Linked DNA regions of Homo sapiens. The protein of the gene in region 4 purifies or fractionates together with the protein of the main gene of each other region. This does not show direct contact. Each region holds a gene or a part of one and is shown on either strand. Other genes may lie near its edges.

Region 1 (7,183 bases), on a different chromosome or scaffold from region 4:
ATTATAAGTAAAATCACAAGGAAGATGCTACTTTTACAAACCTACAGAATGTAGTCAAAGCTGTGCTAGGAGGCTAATTCATTGCTTTAAATGCTTTCATTATGAACCAAAAGTAAAAATAAACAAACAGACAGTCCAATAAATAAATTATAAATAATAATAAAACAGTAGAAGTAAGAAGTACTGTTAAAAATAAAAGTAGAAATTGGTGAATTAGAGTATACTATTTTCTATTTGATAACTTCAGTAATATTTGTAACTTCTGGGGAATTAATAAAATAAATGTATTATAACTAGTTTCATCAAGGAAAATAAGAGAGAAAATATAAACAACATTAGAAATGAGAAAGGGAATAAGCTATATACATAGAGGATTATTTTTTAATATAAAACACATCTATCAATAAAGTTGAAACCCTGAAAAAAATTGATGATTTTTCTAGGAGGATATAAATTACTAAGTTGGCTGAATTACTTCTGGAAATGGACCCAAGTCCAGATAGGTCTTTCAAAATTTCAAGGAACAGATAATCCCCCAGCTATGTAGCTGTTCAAGAGCATGGGAAAAGATAGAAAGCTGTCCAGTTCATTTTAAGAAGCTCACATAACCCTCATACCAAAACCTGCCCAAGAGAGGACAGAGGGAGAAAAACTAAAGGCAATTTTACTCATAAAGACAGTTACAGCAAAGATAAATTACTAAGTAGTAAGTCTTACTTTATTAAAGGAATTGTCTTCCAGTGATTAAATAAGGTTAATTCTTACAATGTAAAGATTACCTAATATTAGGTTATCTGTCAATAGAATCATTACATCCAATGCAGGAGGAAAAAAGTAACCATTTTGAAATGTGCCAAAATGATACATGACAAAATCCAATATTTATTTCAATTTTTAAAAACTTAATAAGTTCATTCTTAATATGATAAAAAAAATCTAACTCAAGGGAAAATCATCATCTTATAGCAAGCATTAACAACTATGACTTTAATATTCTTGCCTTCCTCTCTAAGCTTATATTTTTCTTCTTATTCTACTTGTGGTACATATATTTTATGTGTTTTGGTTGCCAAAATAGGAATGTGAGATACGTATGTATGTATGTGTGTGTGTATATATATATATATATATATGACATCAATAAACAAATCTTAAAATTAATTTCAATGATAATCCCTAGATGTTGCTTCTCCATAGATGCCAAGTCCTTTCTTCTATTAGGTCTAAAGAGTCTAGAAAGATGCAAGTATGAGTTCCTTACAATTCCATTTTTATTCTCAGGAGGAACAATCCAACACCAATCTAGCTAAATTCCGCAAGCTCCAGCATGAGCTGGAGGAGGCCGAGGAACGGGCTGACATTGCTGAGTCCCAGGTGAACAAACTGCGGGTGAAGAGCCGGGAGGTTCACACAAAAGTCATAAGTGAAGAGTGATCATGTCCTGATGCCATGGAATGACTGAAGACAGGCACAAAATGTGACATCTTTGGTCATTTCCCTCTGTAATTATTGTGTATTCTACCCTGTTGCAAAGGAAATAAAGCATAGGGTAGTTTGCAAACAATATCCTTAGACTGGTCTTGTCTTTTCTCTTTCCTGAAGCCATGTCAAAGTTTGAATAGTCACCAGAGTTGTCAAACAATCACATTCAATTGGTGACTTTTTTGGGGGTCTACGGCAACACTTTAAGGCTGTAAAGATGTCACTTATCCAGAAAGACTGTTCTAATGAACAGAAATTTGGAAGTCTATTTTATTTCTTTCTAACCTTTCCTGATATCTGAGTACAGTAAAATCTTAGAAAGCTCCTGCTTCCCCTAACATGAACCTTTTTCAGGATAGTACTAGCTATATTCTCACATAGGGGATTCAAACTGAATTGTATCATTAATTCTCTTTGTTGAATAACTGTTATCAAGAATATAAATACAAAATATTCTTAATTAGCCCATGGATATTTACATTATCAATTCCAATGTACCATATGCCCACAGTAGGTGCACTGGGTAATGGGTTTGACACGACCTTGTTCTTCACGAAGCAAGTTTCAAAATTAAATTAAATATGACTCTTCTCCCTATGAAAACTACAGGGTGTCTATCAAATCTGGAGACATAGAGAATATTATTTTTACGTTATAATGTAGTATCCATGAGCTATTAGCTTATGTTTCCAATCTTTATGGTCTCCCAGATAATCATATAAAGAGCCAAAATAAATGACTAAAAGTGTCAAGAAAATATGATCTCAAAGTAGGTTATTCAAATCTATATTCAACACACATAATGATGGGTATGAGTTTGGTACAAAAAGTAGATATCATAGCAATCTGGACCACTCAGAGACGTTTTCCTAGAGGATCAAGATTTTTAAACTGGATGCAGCTGAGATGCATAGCCAAAAATATAACCTTCCTCGACAGAATAAAGGAAGAGCTAAATGGTAACTTCCCATCAAATAGAAAGCAAGAGTATCTTGGTCTAAATGGCACTGTGTGAAAATGATGTAAATTAGACATGGTAGTTTAACAGGTAAGTTGGATTCACACTGTCGCACTGGCCTTAGAAAGGGTGTGGAATTGCTCTTCTCGCTGCATAAGCCCCTCTTTCACTTTGTTCCTGTATCACGTGGAATTGCTTAAGTGCTTTATAACGTGGCAGTAATAAACAAAAACAATATCTTACTTCCTACTTATTGAAAAGTTTATCCAGAGCAAGACAAAAGGTTGTCTGAAGATTCCCATCAGATCCTATTGAGAGCATTATTAAAATGTTTTATCTTCCTGAAAATCATTACCCACATTTTGCAGGTGCCTAGTAAAGAAACAGACATGTAAGAAAGTAAAATTAGGTACCTGTGGTAACAAAGCAGGCTAATAGATGGCTAGGAAAGGCCCTCTCAGACGCACATCCCTGCAATACCCTTCCTGATGGCTTTAATCTACCCCAGGTAGAAGAGTGTCACAAGTGAGTACGCTGGACCGCAAGTCAGATGACCAGAGTCTAAACTGCTGTGTGATTTGTGGAGATTCTCTTCTATTTTTTGGATCTCAGTTGCTTTATTAGTAAAATGAGAAAGATGAATTAGATGATCCCTTATGGTAATAAAACTATGTGACCTTTACAACTAGTATATCCAGATATCTCCTTTCATAAGGCAAGCTATAGCCATTAAATCAATTGAGATATAAGTACAATAATACAGATGTGGGTGCAAAACCAGGTATATTAAGCAAATGTTGTCCCAGTCCTAGCCAGACAATGCTGACAGACAGAGACGTGAGGCCACAAAGACAGTAAAATAAACTTTTTTAAAAAATTAAAATAGAAAACAATATTCAGGTATTGTTTGTAAGCAAAATACTAAATATATCCCATGGACTGCTGATAGAGGAAAAATCATCGATGCTGCATATTTAGACAGAGAAATACCCTGTTTCCAATATTTTCTTATGTTGAGTTTCATAGAGGAAACAAGATTTCACAAGCAACTTGGGCACCAAAAAAAAATGAGAGAAGCAGGACATCTCTGTTTGGAAGGCAATGCAATTTCGGAGCAAGTCCGAAGTGCCGGTGGAATGATTTGACAATGAATAAGAGGCGACTGATTGAAGGAAACAAAAGAAGCTATCTTTGGCTGCTCTTCATGAAGCAAGTTTCAAAATTAAATTTCCAAGCAACTTTGAAAAAGCACAATAAATTGCAAAAAAAAAAAAAAAAAAAAAAAGGAAATCTTTTTGAGAGAAAGCAACGTTTTTATAACCCTCTGCTAAAGAGCAGAAGTTTTCCTCCCGAGTACACTATCTGTAACTGCGCAGGCAGTTGAAAAGACTTCACACAGGCGACTCTGTGAAACAGAAGAGCAGTAGGCAACAAAGTCCAGGGATTCCAGAACTTAGCTGTCTTTGAAACAACACCTTACATTCCAAAGGCCAACAACTTTAAGATTGCCAACGACTCAAATTATTTATAGGAGATTGATTCATATACTTAACCCAATATGAGAGGAAATATTTCTAATTATATCCAAACATCTTTAATATGAGGGGAATTAGGCTTGGAGACCTTCAATGCCAAAAACATGTTTTGCCAAATATGTTTTAAGAAAGAGGAGGAGGTTACGTGTTTTCCATATTTGAGCCTATAAAAGTACCCTTGGAATGAGTATGACTTGTCTCTCCTCATAAAGCTTCAAGGTAAGTGTGTGTGAGGACAGGGCTCTGTCTGGAGGACGGTAAGGGATGTCTGGCTGCCCGCGTGCATGCCACACATCCTGGCTCCCACTGTCCCTGGCAGCCCTGCCAGTGAAGCACCAGCTTACTCCGTAGCAATTTTAATTAGATGTTGTAGTCTTCCCAGTCATTTCCTGGTTCTCAGTTAAGAATTGTTCTATAATCGGGAATTGTTATAATTTAATCAGAAGAGGTTTGCTCTTTTTCTTACAGTTCTGATCCACTTTAAGGTCGCATCTCTACGGTAAGATTCTGATTTTTTTTTTTCTCATTCCTCACAGAGTGCAAGGAATCTTCTGCAGTGGTTTGGACAGTGGTGAGGGGCGGGGTGAGGGAAGTGATAAAAAAAATCATTTCCATTTCATGGTTGATCACGCTTCTCTTAAAAAATGGAGAATGACTTTAGAAACTGGTTCTCCTTAACTCATATCCCTCGCAATATATGAAAATGCTTTCTCAGAGTCCTTGGGAATTTTATTCACAATAGTGAATTTCATTCACTATTTCCAGCATTGTAGTTTATCTTTTAAATGACTGCATTACAATATGCAATGTAACATTTCAAAGTGTTACTCAATTATAGAGAAAATTTAAATTTTCTATACCATGGCTTTTCCTCAGCACTATAAATATAAAAACCTATGAGAGATGATGTCTAATTGGATAAATAGAATGGTCTGAATCTTTGCCTTGGAAAAAGTTGCTTAACTGCATGTTGTTTCACAATCTATAAAATAAAAATTAACGAATATATACACACACACACACACATATGTATATATACACACACACAATACGAAACATGATTGTCAGCATATTCAGCAAGATGAAGCATTTTAATTATGTTATCTGAGTCAACATAGTTTCAATGGGAGAAATGTATCCAAATGAGCTTCCCTGGAAAAGGTATCTTTATTATTATAAAGTAGAATATACATGAAGATTATTGACAGCATTAATGAATGCTAGCTAATGTGGCAAGAGGGGGATCCTGAAAAGAACAAGTTTTGTGAAATTGTTATAAAAATGTTAATAATAGAGCAAGAAAACATAGGTAATAACGTTTTATAATAAATATTTAAGAAATGCTAAAGATCAGTGAAGAAGTTGAGTTTGTCAAAATTATTATACAGAGACAACAGAAATTGATGGATAACAGAACATTTTTTAACAATGCAAAACAAAGAGCCACACATTTCTGCTTTCCTGTATATTAGGAAGTCTTCGTAACTCCCAAGTTTATAATGAAAATATTTCTGTCATGTACAGAATAGTTCCTAAAATTATAGCAACATATTCCTATTGTTCTTTTAATTCACCAAGCCAGCTTTGAGCCTTTCTCTGTGTCCAGCATTTGTTCTAAGAGGTGTGAAGGATACCATAAAAAGAAGAGTGCTCCCTGCCTGCAAGGTGCTTATAATCCAGTTGGGAAGATAAAAACTATAAGTGAAAGAACTGGAGACTATCCTGCCACCATTATAGCTTTATGTTCTCTATAAGCCAATGATAGGCAGCTTATAAAGATTAATATACCTAACAAATGAAACAGAGAAAGCAGCTAAGAGACTGCAATAGGTGAGCCAGAAACAACAGTCTCTTTCCAAATGCATGATTAAGTGTCTGTCAGCACTGGCACAGAACAAGGAGACTGACATTTTATCCTCAACCAAGCCAGGGAGGTGGTCATACCCAATGCAATGCTAAGCACTCAATTGGTCAGTAAATTTTTTTTTAAAGTTTTAAATGTGAATCTAATGGTCCAGTTTCTTAATTTCTACAATTTCTTTTCTTCCTCTCCCAGCCAGGGTCCTTAACTGGGCTACCATCAATAACCTGCAGCCATGAGTTCCGACTCTGAGATGGCCATTTTTGGGGAGGCTGCTCCTTTCCTCCGAAAGTCTGAAAGGGAGCGAATTGAAGCCCAGAACAAGCCTTTTGATGCCAAGACATCAGTCTTTGTGGTGGACCCTAAGGAGTCCTTTGTGAAAGCAACAGTGCAGAGCAGGGAAGGGGGGAAGGTGACAGCTAAGACCGAAGCTGGAGCTGTGAGTAAAAACACCTGGAGCTGATTAGACTCTGCCTCATTTTGGGTTAAGTTAGCACTTACTTTTTGATCTGGCCTCTCTTGTTTGACTGGACAGACTGTAACAGTGAAAGATGACCAAGTCTTCCCCATGAACCCTCCCAAATATGACAAGATCGAGGACATGGCCATGATGACTCATCTACACGAGCCTGCTGTGCTGTACAACCTCAAAGAGCGCTACGCAGCCTGGATGATCTACGTGAGTTCTTTCTCACGGTCTTCTACTCATGAGAGTAGTTAATAGTTTTTGAAAAGTAGTAGATGATTAAGGTCCCCATCAAATAATTCTGTTCCTCCCTTTTGTTTTGGGTGCAGACCTACTCAGGCTTGTTCTGTGTCACTGTCAACCCCTACAAGTGGTTGCCAGTGTATAATGCAGAGGTGGTGACAGCCTACCGAGGCAAAAAGCGCCAGGAGGCCCCACCCCACATCTTCTCCATCTCTGACAATGCCTATCAGTTCATGCTGACTGGTGAGTGGCTCAGCTGGTTTTCATATGAATTATTTTACCATCCATAATCACAAAATATTAGAACTAAAAAAAGACCTTTAGAAAAAAACCCAATTCACGCCCCTGGTTGTTCAGCAGAGGTGACTAAAGCACAGAGAAGTATATACTGTCAAAGCTCGTATTAAAACACAGCTCTCCTGATTACACCTCACTGACTTTACTAGGCCATGCTATTACTCCATCCCATTAAGTTTAATTTGTTTATGGTCTCCTTGCTTGGAAACACACAATTTATTTTATATATTTAAGTAATAAGAGCCAAGATTAAGTAACAACTGAATCATATAAATCATGTATTATCTGAATAGAAATGAAAAATAGGAGTTCAATCCTTTTGGTGCCTCAGTTTCTTGTTA
Region 2 (7,525 bases), on a different chromosome or scaffold from region 4:
CCAAATATTCATCTTTTCTGTGGACACATCCAAGCAAACAAAGTTGTGGGAAAAAAGCATGTAACTTTGCTAAACAGGTCTCACTTTAATTTCATGATTATCTCTCAGTACTCTGGGGACATGTAGTATACCTTTCACTCTCCAAAATGAACACTTCACATCTTCTCTCTATATACCCACTACATCTCCTCCCCTGCCTTCCACTCAGTCAATGACTTTGCTGCGTACGTCACTGAGAAAACAGAAGCAAGCAGAATTCCTTCCTAAAATTCTCAATGGCTTCCCATATCACTCAGATTAAAAGCCAAAGTCCCTACTGTCCCATAAGTACCAACTCCCTCATCTTTTCAGCATCAAATCTACTAAGCTAAAACTTGCCTTCACTCTCAGTCTTCTTTCCTAATACACAAAGTGTTCCTGTTCCCATCAGAGTCCAACCCTTCCATTTAGCCTCTGGATTCTAGCCCCTCCATCTTTTGCATTATCAATTTGTTTAACTCACAGAATTTTTCTCCCCAACACAAATATATTTAATCTTGCCCATCTTTTAACAATATGCTTAGTTTTTCCTATCTTGACCCCATGTCTGCCTCCAGATACCACTTCATTTATTTGTTATCCTTCTCAACAATCCTTTTTTTCTCTAATCATTATTATAAGTACTTGTCCCTAGGTGTTGAATCACCCCCAGGATTTGGGATCTTAGGGGCCCCAGATATTGGAGAACAGAGAGAACACTGTGTCCTTTCCAAATTATTGACCCACAGAATGCATGTGCCTTCTAAAATGGCTGTTTTAATCCACCATATTTCGGGTAATTTGTTATGCAGCTATAGTCACTAGGACACAGTCCAAGCCATTACTCTATTCCATCTGCATTGTGGCAATGCCTATCTATCCTTGGCCCTGCTGCCCACTGTTGGCCTACCCTTGATGCCTGCAGTCTACACTCAACATAGAAAGCAGAGTGATTTTTACATTCTGTCAGATTTTATTGCTTCTCTTCCTAAAATTCTCACTGGCTTCCCATATTACTCAGATTAAAAGCCAAAAAGTCCCTATAGTCCCATAAGGACCTACATTACCTGACCCTTCCTAACTCATCTCCTGCCACTCTCCTCTTTGCCCATTTTGCTCCTGTTACAGGTTTTCTTGCTGCTTTTTTAAATTGACAAATAAAAATTATATATATTTACACATATCATGGTGTACAACATGATGTTTTAAAATAAGTATACATTCTGGAATAGCTTAATTCAACTAATTAACATATGCATTACCTCACATACTTATTTGTTGTGGTGATAACACTTAAAATCAACTTTCTTACCAATTTTCAAGTATACAATACATTGTTATTAATTATAGTTATGATGCAGTACAATAGATCTCTTGAACTTATTCCTCCTAACTGAAATTGTATATCGTTTAATCAACATCTAATTCCTTCTCCCAACCCTCAATCCCTGGTAATCACTATTCTATTCTGCTTCCGTGAATTCAACTTCAGATTCTACTTATAGGTGAAATCATGTTGTATGTGTCTTTCTGTGCCTGGCTTATTTCACTAGTATAATATTCTCAAGGTTCATACGTGTTATCACAAATTAGACACTTTAGGCATACTCCTACTTTAGAGACTTGGTACTTTGTGCTCCCTCTGTCTGAAAATTCTTCTTCCAGATATTCATATGGCCTGCTCCTTCACTTCTCTCAAACTTCTACTCAAATGACACCTTAATACAGAAGCCCATCCAGGTCACTCCCCTTGGTGCAGTATTCCCTTTACTCCTTACTCTGCTTTATTGTTCCTTTTATAGTAGTTAATACCATCTGACATACTACATATTTACTTGTTTATTTGTTTATGTATATCCACCCCTGCTGACTGAAATTGCCATAAGGGCAGGGCTTTGCCAGTTTTTTGCATTATCCCCTGTGCTATAACAACAGCTGACACATAGCGGACACTCTGTAAGTATGTATTGAGCAAACAAGTGAGTCAATGACCTACCCACATGATGAAATATAACTATGTAGAATGTAATAAAAGTAGTTGACTTGAAAGTGACTATACAACCTCTTTTCAGTAGTGATGGCCCTTTGGAGTCTCAGAGAAATTTAAAAGAAGACAAACACCAGTCTGACTTGCTGAATCTTAAGGGTTTTTTAAATTAATGTCATGCTGCCACACTGGACACTATAGAAGCTAAGACATGAACATCTCCAACCTAGGTCCCAACTGTATTTTTAAACAAAATTTTTAAAAGAAAAAAAATAATCTTGTTCATTAGACATTTCCTATCTACCATCTGTCTTCAGCTCTTTACTACCACTTTAACTCCCTGGGTATATTTGGGAGAAATACCAGCAAGCCATTGTGACCTTCATCTCTAGTGAAGAAATGTTTGCTTCAGCTGCCCCTGGTGACACTATCCTAAGCAGTTTACATACGTGCATGTATGAATTACATAAGATTGCATATAATAAAGTATACATAATCTCCCATATGTGATATAATAATATAATTTCTGATACCTATATATATAAAATCTAATTTAATTCATACAACCCCGTAAGGTGAAGGCAGTATTTGATTTTCACCACATTTATGTTTTTAATAGATAAGGAAATGCAAGGTTATAGAAGCCTATAATATTTCCTAATCTGAGGAAAGTAGAGAGCGAGCAGCTTTTACACAGACTGCTTAAAGACAGTTTCCAAAATAATTCTCCTTATTTAGATTGGAGCCATTCTTCCCACTCATATCTAATCACAAAGAACCATACAAATACAAAAGCCTTCGCATTAATCTCCTGTGTTTTCTATGTAGACAATCCTTTAAGAGGCAAGTCTAAGGGAAATGTGTACTCCCTCACCCAGTGCTGCTTCTCTTCTCTCCTTGTCCAAGCTCTGCAAGGTTCTCTGATCCACTCCTGGTGGCCCATAATAGGGGTCCCACTAGAATATTATGGTCTTGTTTCAGAGCTTTCAAAATCTGAGTGATCAGTCTATCTGTAATTGATCAGAGTTTTAACTATTATGTAAAGAGTCCTCACTATCTGTAATCCTATAACTCATCTATGTATCTTGGTCTCATTCATATTTTCTTCTTTCATCTTTCAACTTCAAATACAGTAAATATAATACATACTTATTATGTCTGCAAGTCAGATGTTAAGTTCCAAAAGAAGTAAAAATAAATGAGTTGTGAAAATCTGAGAGAAAAAATAGAACAAGTTTCCTTCTGGCCTAGAGCCTAGCACTTTGGGTAAGTCGCTAGACTTCGGTGAGTTATTTTCATGGAGATTTTGTTTTTAACGCCTGATGACCTATTTCATAGAATTTTATCAAAATAAATTTTTAAAGTATAAAAGATTCAATCTATCAATGTGTCAAAGATAAATTCTAAGTCAACAGAATTATAAAAACAGTGATCTCATTAATTGGTAATTTAAGCCAGCTAATGATAGTTGAAAATATCTCACCAGAGCTCAGTTAGGGTCACACTTAGAGTAGGTATATTTCCTGCCATATTCAGTAACAGCTGTGTATGTAGCAAAACCATCAAAAGCCAATTTATGAGTATTATGGGCATATGTGATGGCCCATCCATCTTTTCAATCCACAGGGAGAATATCGTGGATACCATGACTTTCCTCCCACCTTAAATAAAAATATGTGGTTCCCACCTCATTAGAGCTATAGCTAGTCATGAGAGTCTGCCCATGAACTAGGAATGCATGTTTGTGTCTCCTTCCATTATGCAGAGGAAACATGCATGGAACATCACACAGCATCCTGTTGTTCCTTCAGTGAAAACATACAAGCTGGAGATATCCATGGAAAGTCCTCCAGAAAAAGAACAGAAGTGTTTATATCTATTCTAAATCCCTTATGCCTCCCCCAGTGGTCCATCACCACTGCCTAATCTGAGAATTCACTTTCACCTTCATATTTAGACTTTCAGACTTTAAAAGAATCTATCGCCAGTCTTTCTAAAATCCAGACTGTGGCTAGGAATGTTGTCTTAAAATCCATCGCTCACTGCTTCCAATCATAGTGTCAGGTCTAAAATTCATTCCAGACTCCTTAATGGCTCTAAGAACCAACAAATTAATTAATCCTAAATTCCTCACATCAGACTCATTCTGTTGGACCAATTTTATAGGCAGAGGAGTAAGTGGGAATCTGGCTTTGAATTCTGTGATGAATGATGCAACAGCCAAACTGGAGAAACAGTGTTAGAAGCCCTGAATCCCCATCCCCTATCAAATGCCTATAAAGAACCCTAGATCATCCTCTGTTAAATTATTTATGGGTGTCAAGAAATATTTCTAATTATATCCATTCACAGCCACAGTCAGTGAATATTGTGCAAAGAGATTGCCAAAAACGGTTTTGCCAAGTAGGTTCCCAGCTAGGACAGCTGAGGTGGCTGCTGTGTTTGCAGAATGGTCTCTATAAAAGTGGAGCTGAGATGCCTCTTTCCCATCCTTCCTCAAAATTCTTGAAGGTATGTATATGTGGAAGAACACTTACTTTTACATTCCTGATGATGATGATTTTTCATTTAAGGGATGTCTACTGCTTCCCAAATTTTAATTATTCTTTCCAACATTCTTAAGGACGACATTGTAGACAATATAGTTACTAGTATTTTGTGATTAAATGGGGAAAAAAAAGCATCCCACATTCTCTTTTTTCTTTCAACAGTAGTTGTCTGCTTTGAGCCTGCCACCTTCTTCATCTGATAATACAAGAGGTAAGAATAATTTATTATTACACTCTAAAGAACAAAGGAATCTCTATATTGCTACATCTTAATGAGCTACCATTTTATTTCCTAGTTTAGTATTGGGAATAGGATATCGGGGCAGCTGTTCTTTAAAAATGCCTTCTCATAAAATTTTGACTTTTCAGGCCACTTAATCAAACAAAACTTAATGAAACTTCTCTTTCACATGTTGTTAGAACTACAGAAAGAATGCAGCCATCATATGTAATATTTAATGTGAACTACTACTCCAACTTAACCCATAAAGATATATCAGAGAGACCGCATGATAAAATCAAGGTGTGTTTATCTGGAAGTCGATATTTCTAGGTGCCAATCCAGGCTTTTCACTGATTCTATTTGCCTGGGTCAAGCCAGTTAGCCTTTATGTATCTTGAAATACAGTGTGTTGCAAGTGGAATTAACAAACCTGCATTTAGCGGAACAGGACTCATGTCCCAGTACCGCCACTTATCACCCACCACTATGACACTGAATGACCCTGAACCTTTCTAGGCCTTAGTTTCCTCATCAGTAAACGAGGAGGCTGGATTCTATTGACTGCTAAGGTCCTTCCAGCTCTTGCCAACTGTGATTGACGTCAGTGGTTTTCAAGGACTCCTCCACAGAATCAAAACATTTAATGGAACCCTGCTAATGGAGAATCAAAACTAATGGAATCCTGCTAATTGTTCATGTGGAGACATGTACTTTTAGTATGATGTTAAGGATATATATAATCATGAAAACCTATTCTACACTTAAGAATTATTTTAAATGAGTTTATATTTAACATAGCAGCTATATTCATTTAGAAAAGAACAGAAAACACTGTTCATGTGGAAATGTTCCTTCCTTAAACTTGAGGCAATGATCACTGTGTGGGTGGATTCAAGAACCCCCTGCAACAACCTGAGGCTCTATTGGGGCTTGATCCCCAAGTTGGGAAACAATTAATCTATAATAAGACAGGAGATGGGAAGGGTAGCAATCATCTTTCTGTGTTTCCTGGATACACTGCATTATAGTAACCTCCACGTGGTAGTGTGTTGTTAATTCAAGTTGCCTGGTGTAAAAACAAACACAGAAACAAAATATAATGTAATATAAATAACATTTCTTCTTCAAAGAAAAAAAACCTGACATTAAATGTTCCAATATATATCCCCTGAAAATATGTCTAAGTTTCACAGTGTCATCAGGACACTTTTACAGATAAGACTGATTTTGAAAATAGAGTATGTGGAAATTCCATAGCTAACATTTTAAGTTGAGGGAAAGTTAATGCTGATGACAAAAGATCAAGACTCTGGAAAGCCTACAGAAGGTGGTGGCTATTGCTGTTGTCGCCATCATTGCTGTCATTGTCATTGGCAACCAAGACACTTCTGCTCCACAGAGGTCACCTTCTTTTATTCTGGCCACTCACCCTGTCCTTGCCATCAGGACAGCAGGACTTATTTTATTTTCTCATAATTAATTTGTCAGTAGGGAAAATTTTTTAAGTTCATTTTGGCTTGAAACTTTATACTGGCTATCCATTTCAGAAAAATATTTAGAAGACTGGTTGGTATTTTTAAAAAGAGGAGAAGAAAGAACGAGATTATAAACCTAAGAAAATAAGAATCAGATTTTAAAATATGTTAGGTTGAAATCCAACTAAAAACAAAGAGAAATACAGATCAACACATACAATCACTATAAAATTTTATTAAAAATTAAGAAGTTCCTTTTCTCCAAGAATCTTTTAAAGTTGTTTTTGGTTTAGATACTACTTCTGACTTTCAAACAATTTCAAAACTAATAAAGGAGATTTTAATTTTAACTTAGGGCAAAATTATATGTTGGATATTCAGCTTTCATTGTAGTTATTTTTTCCTTTACTTACCTAATACCTGTCAGTTAACTAGGTGTTTATTTGTAATGATTAGATCTGGACTTATGTCCGGAAAGAACAGGTGTATCTGTCTACATTCAATTTTAGTAAATCTGACATCCAATTTTAATAATTTGGGATGAGAGGAAAATTTGCATAAAGATCTGTATTTGAGTTTTTAAGACAGGTTCATTTATATTGTAAAGCCAGTGGAAACAGTTATTGTCCATTTCTTTGTATCATCACGATGTTAAGAGGGGGAAGTTGGAAATAAGAAAGAAAAGAAAAGTAGCAAGAAAAAGAAAAAATTCTGAACATGCTTGGAGCATCACAAATGTTGCTGATTGAATGTTGATTCCTCCACATTTCTCAACTAAGGTTTACAACATAGAGGATGGAACTTAGGCTTAAAGTATCACAAAAATTAAGCTATCAACATAGTGCTTTCAAATCAATGAGCTGATCTCTCAGCTCCTTGACATAGTATACAGGAGTGGTCCCTAAAGGCAGGGGTGAGGAAACAAGCATGGAAAATTAAGCACATTAATATGAAATCAACAGAACAATTCTCCACCCCAACCCTGAATCATCATTTGGCTCTGTTTCTTCCTCTAGGTATACCTAGTCCAGTACTGCCATCAATAACCTGCAGCCATGAGTTCTGACTCTGAGATGGCCATTTTTGGGGAGGCTGCTCCTTTCCTCCGAAAGTCTGAAAAGGAGCGAATTGAAGCTCAGAACAAGCCTTTTGATGCCAAGACATCAGTCTTTGTGGTGGACCCTAAGGAGTCCTACGTGAAAGCAATAGTGCAGAGCAGGGAAGGGGGGAAGGTGACAGCCAAGACCGAAGCTGGAGCTGTGAGTAAAAACAC
Region 3 (7,000 bases), on a different chromosome or scaffold from region 4:
ATTTCTTTACTTTTAGAAAGGATAGAATCCTCTGCTCCTATATATTACAAATAGTAATAAAGCTAAGTAAAACACAACTCAAAAAAATACCCTCTTACCTTTGCCAAGACTAAAGACAAATGGTTCATTTCTATCATGACTGGAATCAAACTTCTTTCCATTTGACAATTTTCCTTTGTAATGGACATAAACTTTGTCTCCAATCATCGGCGTTTCCTCACCATTCCCCACTCTTTTGACAATCTAGAAAAGACAAACATTAAGAAAAAGGAGGTCAAACTTTTTACTTGTAATCAGAGAATAAAAAGGTCACACAGTCCATCCCAAGACATCCAGGCAGATATGCAAATATACTATTATCCATTCTTTCTAATGCCTCCCTTCATTCCTCACAATAACTCATTGTTAGAAAACTGTCCTTTACCAACTTGTCTTTTATGTTATATCTACTTTTATTGCTAATCGCACTATTTATTCCTTCAAAGAATTAACCAATAAATCCTGTTCATTGGTTTAATGCCCTATATTTTGACAGTAAACTCTTTTTTTTTTTTTTTTTTTTTTTTGAGACGGAGTCTTGCCCTGTCGCCCAGGCTGGAGTGCAATGGCACGATCTCGGCTCACTGCAACCTCTGCCTCCCAGGTTGAAGCAATTCTCCTGCCTCAGCCTCCCGAGTAGCTGGGATTACAGGCGTGCGCCTCCGTGCTCAGCTAATTTTTGTATTTTTAGTAGAGATGGGGTTTCACCATGTTGGCCAGGCTGGTCTCGAACTCCTGACCTCGTGATCCACCCGCCTCAGCCTCCCAAAGTGCTGGGATTACAAGCATGAGCCACCGCGCCCGACACTAAACTCTCTAACACAGGCTTGTGAGCTAGTCCATATACACACGGACTTAGACCAGAAAGAATGGTGGACTTTTAAAATATTCAAAAAGAAGCTTAAGCAAAGCTTCAAAGGTGTAATTTTATTTCCCTCCTTTGCTAAAAACATTAGCTCCTGACTAGATTCTGCTTGTTTATTTTCAGAAAGCCCAATTTCCTGGTAAAACAGGTTACATTTCCTATTATTTGAAACATAGTCTATCTGTAAAAAACATGAGTATCATTGCACTGCTTGATATGATACTGAATAACTTGTTTTCTAGTAAAGTATTTAACTACTGTAAAATCCAGTGTATTTATTTTGTTCTTGGCAGAGCAAGCTGCTAATGTATTTGGTCAGTTCTGGGAAAAGAAAATCAAACCCAGGTGTGTGATGGTGTAATTTGTTAATTTGTAATCTATGCCAAATTAATCATTTTTGGTAGATAACAGAGGATGGTAGCTAACATCTGATGAACATCTTTTTGGGGAAGGAGTTTGCTTTGAGTTTTATTTAAATAATTCGATTATTTGCTCCTAAATTCTTTTTTTACAAGTATACCGTCCACCTAACATAAATATCACATAAACACTGTGAACTTAAATTCCACAGCTTTCTTAACTCAAAAGCCCAAACATCTTTATTTTATTTTTTGAGACAGGGTCTTGCTCTTTTACCCAGGCTAGAGTGCATGCGGTGGTACAATCATAGCTCACTGTAGCCTCTATCACTCAGCTCAAGTGATCATCCCACCTCAGCCTCCCGAGTAGCAGAGACTACAGGCACATGCCACCACGCCTGGCAAATTTTTTTATTTTTAGTAGAGATGAGATCTTGCTACATTGCCCAGGCTGGTTTGGAACTCCTGAGTTCCAATGATTCTCCCGCCTCAGCCTCCTAAAGTGCTGAGATTACTGGTATAAGCTATCGCACCCAGCCCCAAATATTCTTTAAAGGCAAAGAAACACTACTGCCCTTCTAGGACTTCAAAAGAAAAAAAAAGTCTCAAAACATTAATCTAAAAGATATTACACAATATTCTACAAGTGCTCATGTTCACGAACTGCATGTGGTATTTGGGAGGCTATGCTCAACTGTAAGCCTCACGTGGAAGGAATCTGCATTTCTAGGACTATAAACAGTAACTGGGCATGTGGGATGAATGGCTACCAGAGAGTCAGAGAGCCATCCACACCAGCAAGTGGTACTATGGTATCACTTCAGGCTTCCCTAGCAAGATGAATTTGTACCTAAATCTAGAGTTGCCTTAAGAACACAATCTAGGTTCTATTCATTTTTAAAATATAAATCCATCTTTTATCTTCCTCAGATAGTTACTGAATTTCCAAACCAGCACTGGTTCTTTTTTTAAAAATACGTAATAGTTAATAAGATAGATTACTATAGGACAGGCACTATGCTAAGTGCTTCACCTAATCCTAATAACTCTATGAGGTTGATGGCATTATTATTCTAATTTTACAAACAGGAACTTAATCACAGAGAGGTTAACTAAATTGCCCTAGCTTGCACAGTTACTAGACCTATTTAAATCTTAACCAAAAGCCTCATGGTGAAATCCGAGGCTCTAGACAATGATAAATGATATAATTTAAAGGGCTTCAAATCTCAAATGTTTCTTAATAAGCCTAAAAATCTTGCAATTAGATTTACTCCCTAGAACAGAACAGGGTCTGAGGCAAGTTGGGGATCATGTTCTCTGGGCATGGGCACTCTGAAAAGATGAAAGGGTAAGTCGTAAACAGAGGCAGGGAGATGCTGAGGACAGCCTGCAAAGTCTCCACTGTTTCTAGAAGCTTCCTGGAATTTAGGATGAGTAACTATAGCTACAAGGTTGAGAAGCCTTCTAAAAAAAGACAATAGGATGTAAATCTATAGCATAAAGCCCTTATTCTATAGCTGCAAGTCCCCAAAATTTGACTTAGCACATAATAGCAATTCACATATATTCAGAAGAGATCCAGGCACAGAAGGCTTTCACATAAGCAAAGTTATACAAAACAAAAATTCTTACTTGCTACTGCTGGCACAAGAGATATTAAAACTCAGCATCCTGGTAATATTCAGAATGCATCAGATAATCTTTTCAGGAAAAACAAAACTTAACTATACAAAACTTACATGTGTTAACAATGGTGTAGGAGAAATAACTATTTAATGTGACTAAAGCCACTTAACCTTTCTCAGATTCAGTTTATTCACTTATAAGATGGAAGAATCAAGAGATGCTCTGATTGTCTCACCACATTGTTGTAAGAAACAAAACAAAAGAAATGCACGTGAAAATGATTAACTATAGAGTGAAGAAACACACACAGTCATGCATCGCTTAAGGACAGGGATATGTTCTGAGAAATGTGTTCTTAGATGATTTCATCCTTATGTGAACATCGCAGAGTGTACTTACACAAACCTAGATGGCCTGGCCTACTTGTACACACCCACGTTAGGTGGTTTGGCCTACTGCTCCAAGGCTACAAACCTGTACATTGTGTTACTGCACTGAATACTGCAGGCAATTGTAAAACAGTGGTATTTGTGTATCTAAGCATATCTCAACATAGAAAAAGGTACAGTAATAAAAGGTATACAAGAAAAAAAATGGTACACCTATACAGAACACTTACCATGAATGGAACTTGCAGGACTGGAAGTTGTTCTGGATGAGTCAGCGAGTGAGCAGTGAGTGAACATGAAGGCCTAGGATATTACCATACACTACCGTAGACTTTATAAACACTGGACACCTAGACTACATTTATTTTAAAATTTTTCTTCTTTCTTTAATAATAAATCAATCTTAGCTTACTATAACATTTTTACTGTGTAAACTTTTTTTTTAGCTTTGACTCTTGTAATGACACTTAGAACACAAACACTGTACAGCTGTACAAAAATATTTTCTTTCTTTATATCCTTATTCTATAAGCATTTTTCTGTTTTTTAAATTTTTTATTCTTTTACTTTTTAAACTTTTTTTTGTTTAAAACTAAGACACAAACACATACATAAACCTAGGCCTACAGAGGGTCAGGATCATCAGTATCACTGTCTTCCACCAACACATCTTGTCCCACTGGAAGGTCTTCAGGACAGTAACATGCATGGAGCTGCTGTCTCCTATAATAACAATGCCTTCTTCTTGAATACCTCCTGAGGGACCTGCCCAAGGCTGTTTTTTGTTTGTTCATTTGTTTTTGAGACAGGATCTCACTCTCACCCAGGCTAGAATGCAGTGGTATGATCATAGTTCACTGCAGCTTGGAACTCCCAGGCTTACATGATCCTCCTGCCTCAGTCTCCTGAGTAGTAGAAACTACAGGTACATGCCACTATGCCTGGCTAATTTTTTTAATTTTTTTTCTACAGATAGGGGTCTTACTATGTTGCCCAGGCTGGTCTTGAACTCCTGGCCTCAAGTGATCCTCTTGCTTTGGCCTCCCAGGGTGCTGGGATTACAGGCATGAGCCACTGCACTCAGCCAAGGGTGTTTTACAGTTAACTTTTTAAAAAATAAGAAGCACACTCTAAAATAATGATAGAAAGTATAGTAAACACATAAACCAGTAATATAAACATTTATTATCAAGTATTATGTACTATACATAACTGTGACTGCAGTGCAGTAGGTTTGTTTACACCCACATCACCACAAACACATAATACACTGTACTACCCATGCTACAACAGCTATGGCACCACTAGGCCATAGGAACTTTTCGGCCCCATTATAATCTTATGGGACCACTGCTGAAGGTGCAGTCTGTCACTGACTGAAATGTCATTATATGGTGAATGACTGTATAGTGCTTTAATAAGTAGGAAAGCTAATTCAAAAGTAAGATATATTCTAAGAGGAAATCGCAAAAGATATCTTCACTGTACACAGGAACAATATTTATATATAAAAATAAACCCCTTTGGGCCGGGCACGGTGGCTCATGCCTGTAATCCCAACACTTTGCGAGGCCAAGGCAGGCGGATCACCTGAGGTCAGGAGTTCAAGACCAGCCTGGCCAACATGGTGAAACCCTGTCTCTACAAAAATTAGCGAGGCATGGTAGCAGGCGCCTGTAATCCCAGCTACTCGGGAGGCTGAGGCAGAATTGCTTGAATCCAGGAGGCGGAGGTTGCAGTGAGCTGAGATCATACCACTGCACTCTAGCCCAGGCAACAGAGGGAGACTCTGTCTCAAAATAAAATAAAATAAAATAAAATAAAATAAAATAAAATAAAATAAAACCCCTTTGAATTTTTCAAGTTAGCTTTTCTTTCCTTAAAAAGTCTTCAAAATTGTCATTAGCTAGCTTTAGTGTACTAAAAGGATACATTAAAATAGTAACCTATTTGTATACTCTGAGAATAGGGAAATATAGCCCTTTAGAGTGAGATATAACTTGGACCTGAACCCCAGGTAAATCTGCATTACTAAGATATATGATATTAGGCAAGTTAATTTACCTAGCCCAGTCTCAATTTCAACATCTATAATCTGGGATTAAAAATTAAAATCTCTAGCTGGGCACAGTGGCTCGTGCCTATAATCCCAGCTACTCAGAAGGCTGAGGTGGGAGGATTGCTTGAGGCCAGGATTTCAAGACTTGCCTGAGCAACATAATGAGATGCCCTCTCTCAAAAATTTAATTAATTAATTTAAAAAGAAAATCCCAGCTACTCAGGAAGCTGAGATGGGAAGATCACTTGAACCCAGGAGCTCAAGACCAGCCTGGGCAACATAACGAGACTCAACTCTTAAAAAAAACCTTGAAGTTATGAAGACAAAATGAGAATCTAGCTCTAGTGTTTGGCACTTAGTAACCATCAATAAACATTATCCACCCCAGCCCCCCTCAGAAAGAGATGCTATAATCTTTCCAGACAGCAGGTTTCCTTGTATGTCACTCAGCTTTGTGGCCTCACCTTTAATACTCCCCTGTCTTTTTTGGAGGTAATATCCTCTCCCTGCTCAGCAACAGTGGCTGTGGGGCTTTCTTCATTGTTCTTGGCACCTTCATCAGTAGTCATTGTCTTTTAAGTAGAGAACCTGGTAAGAAGAAAAATATTTTAGCTGGGAAAAATATCACTTCTTTATGAATCTTGAATGTCCCTGGGAACTGAGCTCTACCTAACCTAAGATTTACTTAGGGCCAATAAGCTTAGATACTGAAAATGAAAACAAAGGCATTTGCTATGAGCATGTATTGATGTCATCAGGCATGTAAATAAAACATCATCCAATTCTTTAATTTCCCATCTAGCTCTGGTCTCAAAACAGAGAACAGTACAAGTCAAGTTGGGTAGTGATTACATTCCTTAACATAACATGGTGAGAAGCAGTCCCTTCACAACTTTGAAAACATCCTTTTTCTACAGCCATATTCTTGACAGAGGATTAAGACCTTATCAGTTCTTAATAAAAGAAGTGACAATATATCAATCACAGTGAGACACAGAACAGGATTTAGAATCCAACAGACCCAAGTCTGGGTCCTAGCTGCAGCTCTTGACATTTCCAGTTTCCTTAATCTTGCTGAGCCTTCATTTTTCATCTGCAAAATGGACACAGTACACTATTCATAGTTACAGTGAGATAACATTTCTTAAAAGATTAGCATAGATTGGTAACTTAAACATATTTAACCATTTATCATCATTATTGGGCCTTCTGTAGGGTCATTTTTCATCTCCTGCCCAAAATACCTACAGAATGTTCTTCCATGTGGCATTCAAGGCCCTTCACAATCTGGCCCTAATCTATCTTTGAGTTCTAGCTGCCATTATTTTATTTTACTTTCTTTCATGCAGCTCATGCTCCAGCCAAACTAGGCCAATTCCACCTCTACAACAAACCCAGTGCTTTCCCATAGTCATTCTTCTGGTCACTCCCTTTCTTGTTTCCAAAACATCCACCTCTCTCAAATCCTACTTCTGTCATACCAACCTTGACCCTCTATTTGTAGGCCATTTTGCCCTTTTACGTACTTCCTTAGCTCTTCTCTCGATTTGTTGTCTGTAAGAGATTCATAAGACTATGCGCCTGTTAGGTTTAAAAGATCCTTCAGAGCAAGGTCCATGCTTTGTTCATATTTAGATTCCCTAGAATGCCTCTACCTTTG
Region 4 (6,864 bases):
CTCATGGTTACAGTTTATTACCACAAAAGGATAGAGACCAAGATCACCAAAGGTAAAAGGCACATAGGAGGAAATCTGTGAGAAACCAGGCACAATTTTTTTTCTTTTTTCTTTTTCTTTTTTTTTTTTTTTTTTTTTGAGATGGAGTCTCGCTGTGTCACCCAGGCTGGAGTGCAATGGCACAATCTCGGCTCACTGCAACCTCTGCCTCCCAGGTTCAGGTGATCCTCTGCCTCAGCCTCCCAAGTAGCTGGGATTACAGGCATGTGCCACCACACTGGCTGATTTTTGTGTTTTTAGCAGAGATGGGGTTACACCATGTTGGCCAGGCCAGTCTGGAACTCCTGACTTCAAGTGATCCACCCGCCTTGGCCTCCCAAAGTGCTGGGATTACGGGTGGAAGCCACTGTGTCCAGCACAGGCACAAACTTAGCAGGTGTTCCCTCCCAGTGCAGTTGCACAAGGGCACACTGAATTCTCCCAGCAAAGTTGTGTGCAACACATTCACAGTATTGCCAGCCAGGGAAGCTCCCCCAAGCCTTGACGTCTAGAGTTTTCGTTAAGGGTCATTGAGGTAGGAATGCAGAACCCACATGAATAACCATAAATATCCAGTCTACAACCCTTGCAGAAAACAAACATATAGCATGGCCCAGGGCCTCATGCATGCAAAAGCCAGCATCCACCATGAATCATATTGTTAGCATAAATTATCTGGTCAAACGTGCAGCAGGACCTACTTATGGTTTTCGACATAAAAATCTTACCAGGCAAGATACCCCAAGAGGTTGTTTTCCTGAAGTTGGCCCTAATTCATTCTAGGGTCAGATATCAGATAGCTGCGGACAGTGCCTGTGTCCTAAAACCTGCCAACATTATTCACAGTAGCAAATCCTATTCTGTTTATGCTGCCCCTGCCCTGCCTTGCCTTGCCTTTCTGGTGGAAAACACAGCGCAGGCTCTGGGCCTTGCTTTCTCCTCTGCTGCTGCTTTCTAACCTGCTCTGGTGCTTCCACCCGCATGGTGTGCTCTGCCTCCTGTTTCTAGGGATCTCTTACTATAAACTTCCTCCATAATAATCACTTCTGTATCTGATTGTCACACCCTGCCTGACTAAATACAATCCCAGGTATATTCTAGAATACACAGGGAGCCTATTACAACATCCTTGGGCCAGGCGCAGTGGCTCGCGCCTGTAATCCCAGCACTTTGGGAGGCTGAGGCAGGACTGCTTGAGCCCAGGAGTTCAAGACCAGCCTGGGAAATATAGTGAGACCCCATCTTTAAAAAGAATAAATTTTTAAAAATTGGCTGGATGTGGTGGCATGCACCTGTGGTCCCAGCTACTTGGCAGGCTTAGGTGGAAGAATTGCTTAAGCCTGGGAGTTCGAGGCTGTAGTGGGCCATGATGGTGTCACTGCACTCCAGCCTGGGTGGAAGAGTGAGACTTTGTCTCAAAACTAAAAATAAAAATATGACCTCCTTACTGTGGCCTCCAGGACACTACAGAATTCACGTCCATCTATCTCTGTGATTCAGTTTATCTTCAGCTGCAGCCATACTAACCTTGTTGCACTTCCCCAAACACGACAGGATCCTCCTGCTTTCATTCCCTTGTCTTAGGTGCTCTCTCTATGAGACCCTGTTACCTCAGATGCTCCATTCCTCCAAGTCCATGCTCAGATATAACTGTCTTTTAGACATTTCCCAACTACTCTACCTCCCTCTAACCTTCTATATTGTTTACTTTTGTGGTTGTGGTTGTTCTTTTTGAGTTACTGATTGTTGGAATTAAAAGGTCCCCGAGGGCCAGGGACAGTGGCTCACGCCTGTAATCCCAGCAATTTGGGAGACTGAGGTGGGTAGATCATCTGTGGTCAGGAGTTCGACACCAGCCTGGCCAAAATGGTGAAACCCTGTCTCTACTAAAAATACCAAAATTAGCCGGGCGTGGTGGTGTGCACCTGTAGTCCCAGCTACTTGGGAGTCTGAGGCAGGAGAATTGGTTGAACCTGGGAGGCAGAGGTTGCAGTGAGCCGAGATCGCACCACTGCACTCCAGCCTGGGCGACAGAGTGAAACTGCATCTCAAAAAAAAAAAAAAATTCCTCAAGTACAGGAATGCATAATTATTTTGCTATGTACATATCTGATTTTTTAGAGCAGTGCCTGTTGCAAGATAGGCACTCAATCGATACTCATTAAATTAACAATATACACATATATAAAACAGCACTTTCACATGGTTATGAGTGACCTAAGGAAAAACAGAACAGGATGACGTTGTAGTGGGGGCTGTTTTAAATTGACAGTTTGGAGCTGGGCGCAGTGGCTCACACCTGTGATCCCAGTATTTTGGGAAGCCGAGGCGAGTGGATCACCTGAGGTCAGGAGTTCGAGACCAGCCTGGCCAACATGGTGAAACCCTGTCTCTACTAAAAATACAAAAATTAGCCGGGCATGGTGGCAGGTGCCTGTAATCCCAGCTACTCAGGAGGCTGAGGCAGGAGAAATGTTTGAACCTAGGAGGCGGAGGTTGCATGAGCTGAGTTCGAGCCACTGCACTCCAGCCTGGGTGACAGAGCAAGACTCCGTCTCAATAAACAAACAAACAGACAGGTTTGGGAAAGCCTCTGAGAAAGGAATGGTTGGCCTGAGCTAAGCGCCATTACCCTGATCCACCTATTGTAACCACCTAATGGGTTCATTATTTTCCCTGCTCCCCAGATAGAGTCGACTTATCAAGACAGGATAATTGCAATAAAGGGTTTAATTCACATCAATCGAGCTAAATGAGAGACCAGAGTTTTATTACTCAAATAGGTCTCCCCAAATATTTTGAGACGAGCTTTTTTGTTTTTGGGTTTTTTTGTTTTTGTTTTTGTTTTTTTTGAGACAGAGTCTCGTTCTCCTTCTGTCGCCCAGGCTGGAGTGCAGTGGCATGATCTTGGCTCACTGCAACCTCCGCCTCCAGGGTTCAAGCGATTCTCTTGCCTCAGCCTTTTGAGTAGGTGGGATTACAGGCATGCGCCACCACACCCGGCTAATTTTTGTAGTAGAAACGGGGTTTCGCCCTGTTGGCCAGGCTGGTCTCGAACTGCCTACCTCAGGTGATCCGCCCGCCTCGGCCTCCCAAAGTGCTGGGATTACAGGCATGAGCCATCACGCCAGGCCTTCAATTATATTTCTGCAAGATATGTTCCCTGTCTAAAAGAATTCAATTTTTAATGTTTTTGAAACTTATGTGTTTGCTAAACAAATACGTGGGGGCTGATTTTACGATCTGAGGCCAAATCCACAAACTGATTACAGGGTCCAACAAATATTTGGCGAGTGGGAGGAGAGGGGTAAGTGAGCTGGACTGGTGGCGTCCTGGCTGTGAGCAGGCACAGCCGCAGGCTTCAGGGAGCCCCATCGCGGTGACCCTGGAGAGTGGCCTGAATCGGACGTGACCTTGAAGCAAGGTGGTTTTGGGGTCGCCGGCTGCACAAGGCGCGAAGTGGTTTAGGGTCACGGGCTGCACGAGGCTCCAGCACGTCAGGAGTGGGCGTCTGTTCATTCCCACGTGCATCGCGGCTCTCTCCTAGTTGACGCATGCACACCCCGTGGGTGTATGCGTTGTTCATTCCCACAACGGCCATCACCACCTCTCCGCACCCTCTGTCTCCTTCCTTCTCGGGCCTCACCCCTGGCCCTCGCTTTCAGTGCCCAGCCCGGACCGCAGCACTCCAGTTCCGCCCCAACCCGGGAACCCTGGACTGAGGCTCCCGTTTCTGTCCTTTCTATTGGGCGCACTTCCGATGGCGTCAGGAATTTCAGCCAATAGGAGCCAGCCAGGAAGTACCTCTCTGAGCGGTTGGTGCCGGGTATAAAAGAAGGCCGCGCAGCCACGGCTGCTCACGACGCCGCGGATCCCGAAGCCTGTGTAGCAGTGAGACATCAGTGAGGCTGCAGGACGAGCAGGATTGGAAGCGCCCCGGCCAGAAAGTGACCCCCCACCCCTTTCAGGACCCTGTGAACGGGAACAGCCATCCAGAGGGTTCAGGAAGGCGTCCGCGCCCTCACCTCTTCTCCCCATGAGCTCCCCCAGAGCTGTGGTGCAGCTGGGCAAAGCTCAACCTGCAGGCGAAGAGTGTGAGAGCCAGCGCCAGAGAAAGGACGCAGGGAAGGCTGGGGACTGGGCCAGGGGTCGGGTGCACAGAAGACACATGTGTTGACATCTCCCCTCCCTCTCCTCCTCCCCAACGCTCTTCTTTTCTCCCCACTCCCTCCCTTCCCTCCAATTCTTTCTTTCACCTCTCCCTCCCCTACTCTCTCCTCCCCTTCCTTTCTCTCTGCCTCTTCTTCACCTCCTCCTCCCCTCCCTACCTTACCTTACTCTTTCTTCTTCCCCTTACCTCTCCCTCCCCCTCTCCCTGCCTTCCCCTTCCCTCTCTTTCTCTCCTCCCCTTCTTCCCCTCACCTCTCGCTCCCTATTCCCTTCTCTACTGTTCTCCTCTCCTCTCTTTCTCTCCCCTTCTCCTTCCCTCCCCTCTCCCTTCCTATCTCCCTCCTCCTCCTCTCTTTCAGTGGCTACAGCAAACCAAACAGCCCAGCAGCCCAGCAGCCCAGCCATGTGAGTCCCTTGGGATTGGTATCTGGAAAAGGAAGGAAGGTGGGACGTGGGGATGAAGAACAGACTGGGTGTGTGGGGTGCTGGCTCCTGGGAACGAGAACTACTGATAGGGCTGGGTCTGTGTGAGAAGGGAAAGCGGCAGAGGAAGGATACAATGAAAGAGGAAGGGGAGCATTGGCATCCCTGACTTTCCCTCCGCCTACCCTACCTCCCAAGCTGAGGCTTTTTTCTTCCTCTCCTGTCAGGCGGCGCCTCACAGTCGATGACTTTGAAATCGGGCGTCCCCTGGGCAAGGGGAAATTTGGGAATGTGTACCTGGCTCGGCTCAAGGAAAGCCATTTCATTGTGGCCCTGAAGGTTCTCTTCAAGTCGCAGATAGAGAAGGAAGGACTGGAGCACCAGCTGCGCCGGGAAATTGAGATCCAGGCTCATCTACAGTAAGGACAGTCTCTGCTTCCTCTTTCATCTTTGACGTCTGAGCCCAGCATTTTCCCCAAATACTAACCCCAAGTAAACCCTGCACTTGTACCTTGAAGACTTCTCTGCAGTTCATTCCATTTACACTACCTCCTACCCTGGGTCAGACACTCGAATCCTGGTTCCTGTTCTCCGTTCTCCCCTCACTTGCTCCCAGATAGGGCTGTTGTTATTCTGGTCCCAGCATAATTTGCCACTTGTGTGACCAGGCAGTGACGGTGGCATCATATGATAGGCCTCAGGGAGAAATCTGACTCTTCCAACATTAATCCTTCAGACACCCCAATATCCTGCGCCTGTATAACTATTTCCATGATGCACGCCGGGTGTACCTGATTCTGGAATATGCTCCAAGGGGTGAGCTCTACAAGGAGCTGCAGAAAAGCGAGAAATTAGATGAACAGCGCACAGCCACGGTGAGGTGCGGGTCTGGAGGCTCTGGGGTCTCTGAGTTTACTGTGGGCTGGTGGGAGCTCTGTTTGTGGCTGTCAGGAGGGTCCGCATTGCCTTCTGAGAAGTTTACTTCTGAATGTTATTGTGTAAATTTAATATAATGGCACGTATGTTCTACAGCTTTATCCTTGGATACCCTAATTAACCTCATTGTATCTCCAGAATATTAATAAGTACTGCGTATAGGTTTGGATTCTTTGGTTATAAGCAACAGAATCTAACTCCACTGCCTTATGTAAAGAAACATATTGAAAGGCTCTGAAGGAGTTCACTGAATAAATAGCTAGAACTGGCTTAGAGATAGGTACAAAGAGATTTCTAGAGGGTTCCGGAAAGGGAACCATGGCAATGATTTTCCCAGGAGCAATGGTCCAATCAGCTTGCTGTGTCAGGATGAGTGGTCTTCCATCTTTCCTCCTGTTTCTGTTTCACTTCCTCGGGCCTCAAGTCCTGTGAGAGATCATCTGAGTGGCTCAATGTAGGTTCTATGTCTGGCTACTTGCTGTGCTAGGACAACAGGGAGGATCTGTGTCCATGTTACCATCCATCCTATAAGACCACATAAAAAGGAGAGGAAAACCACACCCCACACACCAGTAACTGGTGCAATTTAAAAGGAGGAAATGGAGTTACTGGACCAAAAAGATTCCACTGTAATCATACAATTCATGGTAAGTGTTCCACCTCAGACGGAAATTGTGGCAGGCTTCACTTCCAGGGTGACTTTTCTTTGCACCCACAGATAATAGAGGAGTTGGCAGATGCCCTGACCTACTGCCATGACAAGAAAGTGATTCACAGAGATATTAAGCCAGAGAACCTGCTGCTGGGGTTCAGGGGTGAGGTGAAGATTGCAGATTTTGGCTGGTCTGTGCACACCCCCTCCCTGAGGTAGGTCAGGTGGTGGTGGTAGGGTGAGTTCTGAGTACCAGTTAGGAATGACCCAGTTTAATGTATTTCATGTGTCCATGTGTAAAACCTAGATACGAACTTGGGGTTTCTATTGGAATACTGCCTTTTTCTTTTCTTTTCTTTTCTTTTTTTTTTTGAGACAGAGTCTAACTCTTTCACCCAGGCTGGAGTGCAGGGGCACAATCTCGGCCTCCCAGGTTAAAGCGGTTCTACTGCCTCAGTCTCCCAAGTAGCTGGGATAACAGGCATGTGCCACCACACTCGGCTAATTTTTGTATTTTTAGTAGAGACAGGGTTTTGCTATGTTGGCCAGGCTAGTCTCGAACTCCTGACCTCAGGTGATCCGCCCACCTTGGCTTCCCAAAGTGCTGGGATTACAGGCGTCAGCCACCATGCCTGGCTGAACTA

Evidence for each region.
Region 1: the proteins of AURKC (region 4) and MYH1 purify together in Homo sapiens (affinity purification with mass spectrometry; 3 studies listed by BioGRID and IntAct, with this or other methods). This does not show direct contact.
Region 2: the proteins of AURKC (region 4) and MYH4 purify together in Homo sapiens (affinity purification with mass spectrometry; 3 studies listed by BioGRID and IntAct, with this or other methods). This does not show direct contact.
Region 3: the proteins of AURKC (region 4) and FKBP5 purify together in Homo sapiens (affinity purification with mass spectrometry; 3 studies listed by BioGRID and IntAct, with this or other methods). This does not show direct contact.

The regions. Positions count from the first base shown.
Region 1 is NC_000017.11:10,515,531-10,522,713, reverse strand, and holds the start of MYH1 (myosin-1), read left to right. Parts: upstream 1-4,171; 5' UTR 4,172-4,194; intron 4,195-4,443; 5' UTR 4,444-4,474; intron 4,475-6,031; 5' UTR 6,032-6,071; coding exon 6,072-6,275; intron 6,276-6,371; coding exon 6,372-6,515; intron 6,516-6,631; coding exon 6,632-6,788; intron 6,789-7,183. Other genes in the region: MYH2 (myosin-2), read left to right, coding at 1,282-1,434. UniProt on the Homo sapiens protein: Required for normal hearing. It plays a role in cochlear amplification of auditory stimuli, likely through the positive regulation of prestin (SLC26A5) activity and outer hair cell (OHC) electromotility.
Region 2 is NC_000017.11:10,466,528-10,474,052, reverse strand, and holds the start of MYH4 (myosin-4), read left to right. Parts: upstream 1-4,493; 5' UTR 4,494-4,516; intron 4,517-4,716; 5' UTR 4,717-4,765; intron 4,766-7,109; exon of another isoform or gene 7,110-7,268; 5' UTR 7,269-7,307; coding exon 7,308-7,511; intron 7,512-7,525. UniProt on the Homo sapiens protein: Muscle contraction.
Region 3 is NC_000006.12:35,636,916-35,643,915, forward strand, and holds part of FKBP5 (peptidyl-prolyl cis-trans isomerase FKBP5), read right to left. Parts: intron 5,929-7,000; 5' UTR 5,910-5,928; coding exon 5,805-5,909; intron 244-5,804; coding exon 99-243; intron 1-98. UniProt on the Homo sapiens protein: Immunophilin protein with PPIase and co-chaperone activities. Component of unligated steroid receptors heterocomplexes through interaction with heat-shock protein 90 (HSP90).
Region 4 is NC_000019.10:57,227,174-57,234,037, forward strand, and holds the start of AURKC (aurora kinase C), read left to right. Parts: upstream 1-3,849; 5' UTR 3,850-3,940; coding exon of another isoform or gene 3,941-3,941; 5' UTR 3,942-4,075; coding exon 4,076-4,133; intron 4,134-4,568; coding exon 4,569-4,614; intron 4,615-4,859; coding exon 4,860-5,051; intron 5,052-5,368; coding exon 5,369-5,507; coding exon of another isoform or gene 5,508-5,512; intron 5,513-6,286; coding exon 6,287-6,435; intron 6,436-6,864. UniProt on the Homo sapiens protein: Serine/threonine-protein kinase component of the chromosomal passenger complex (CPC), a complex that acts as a key regulator of mitosis.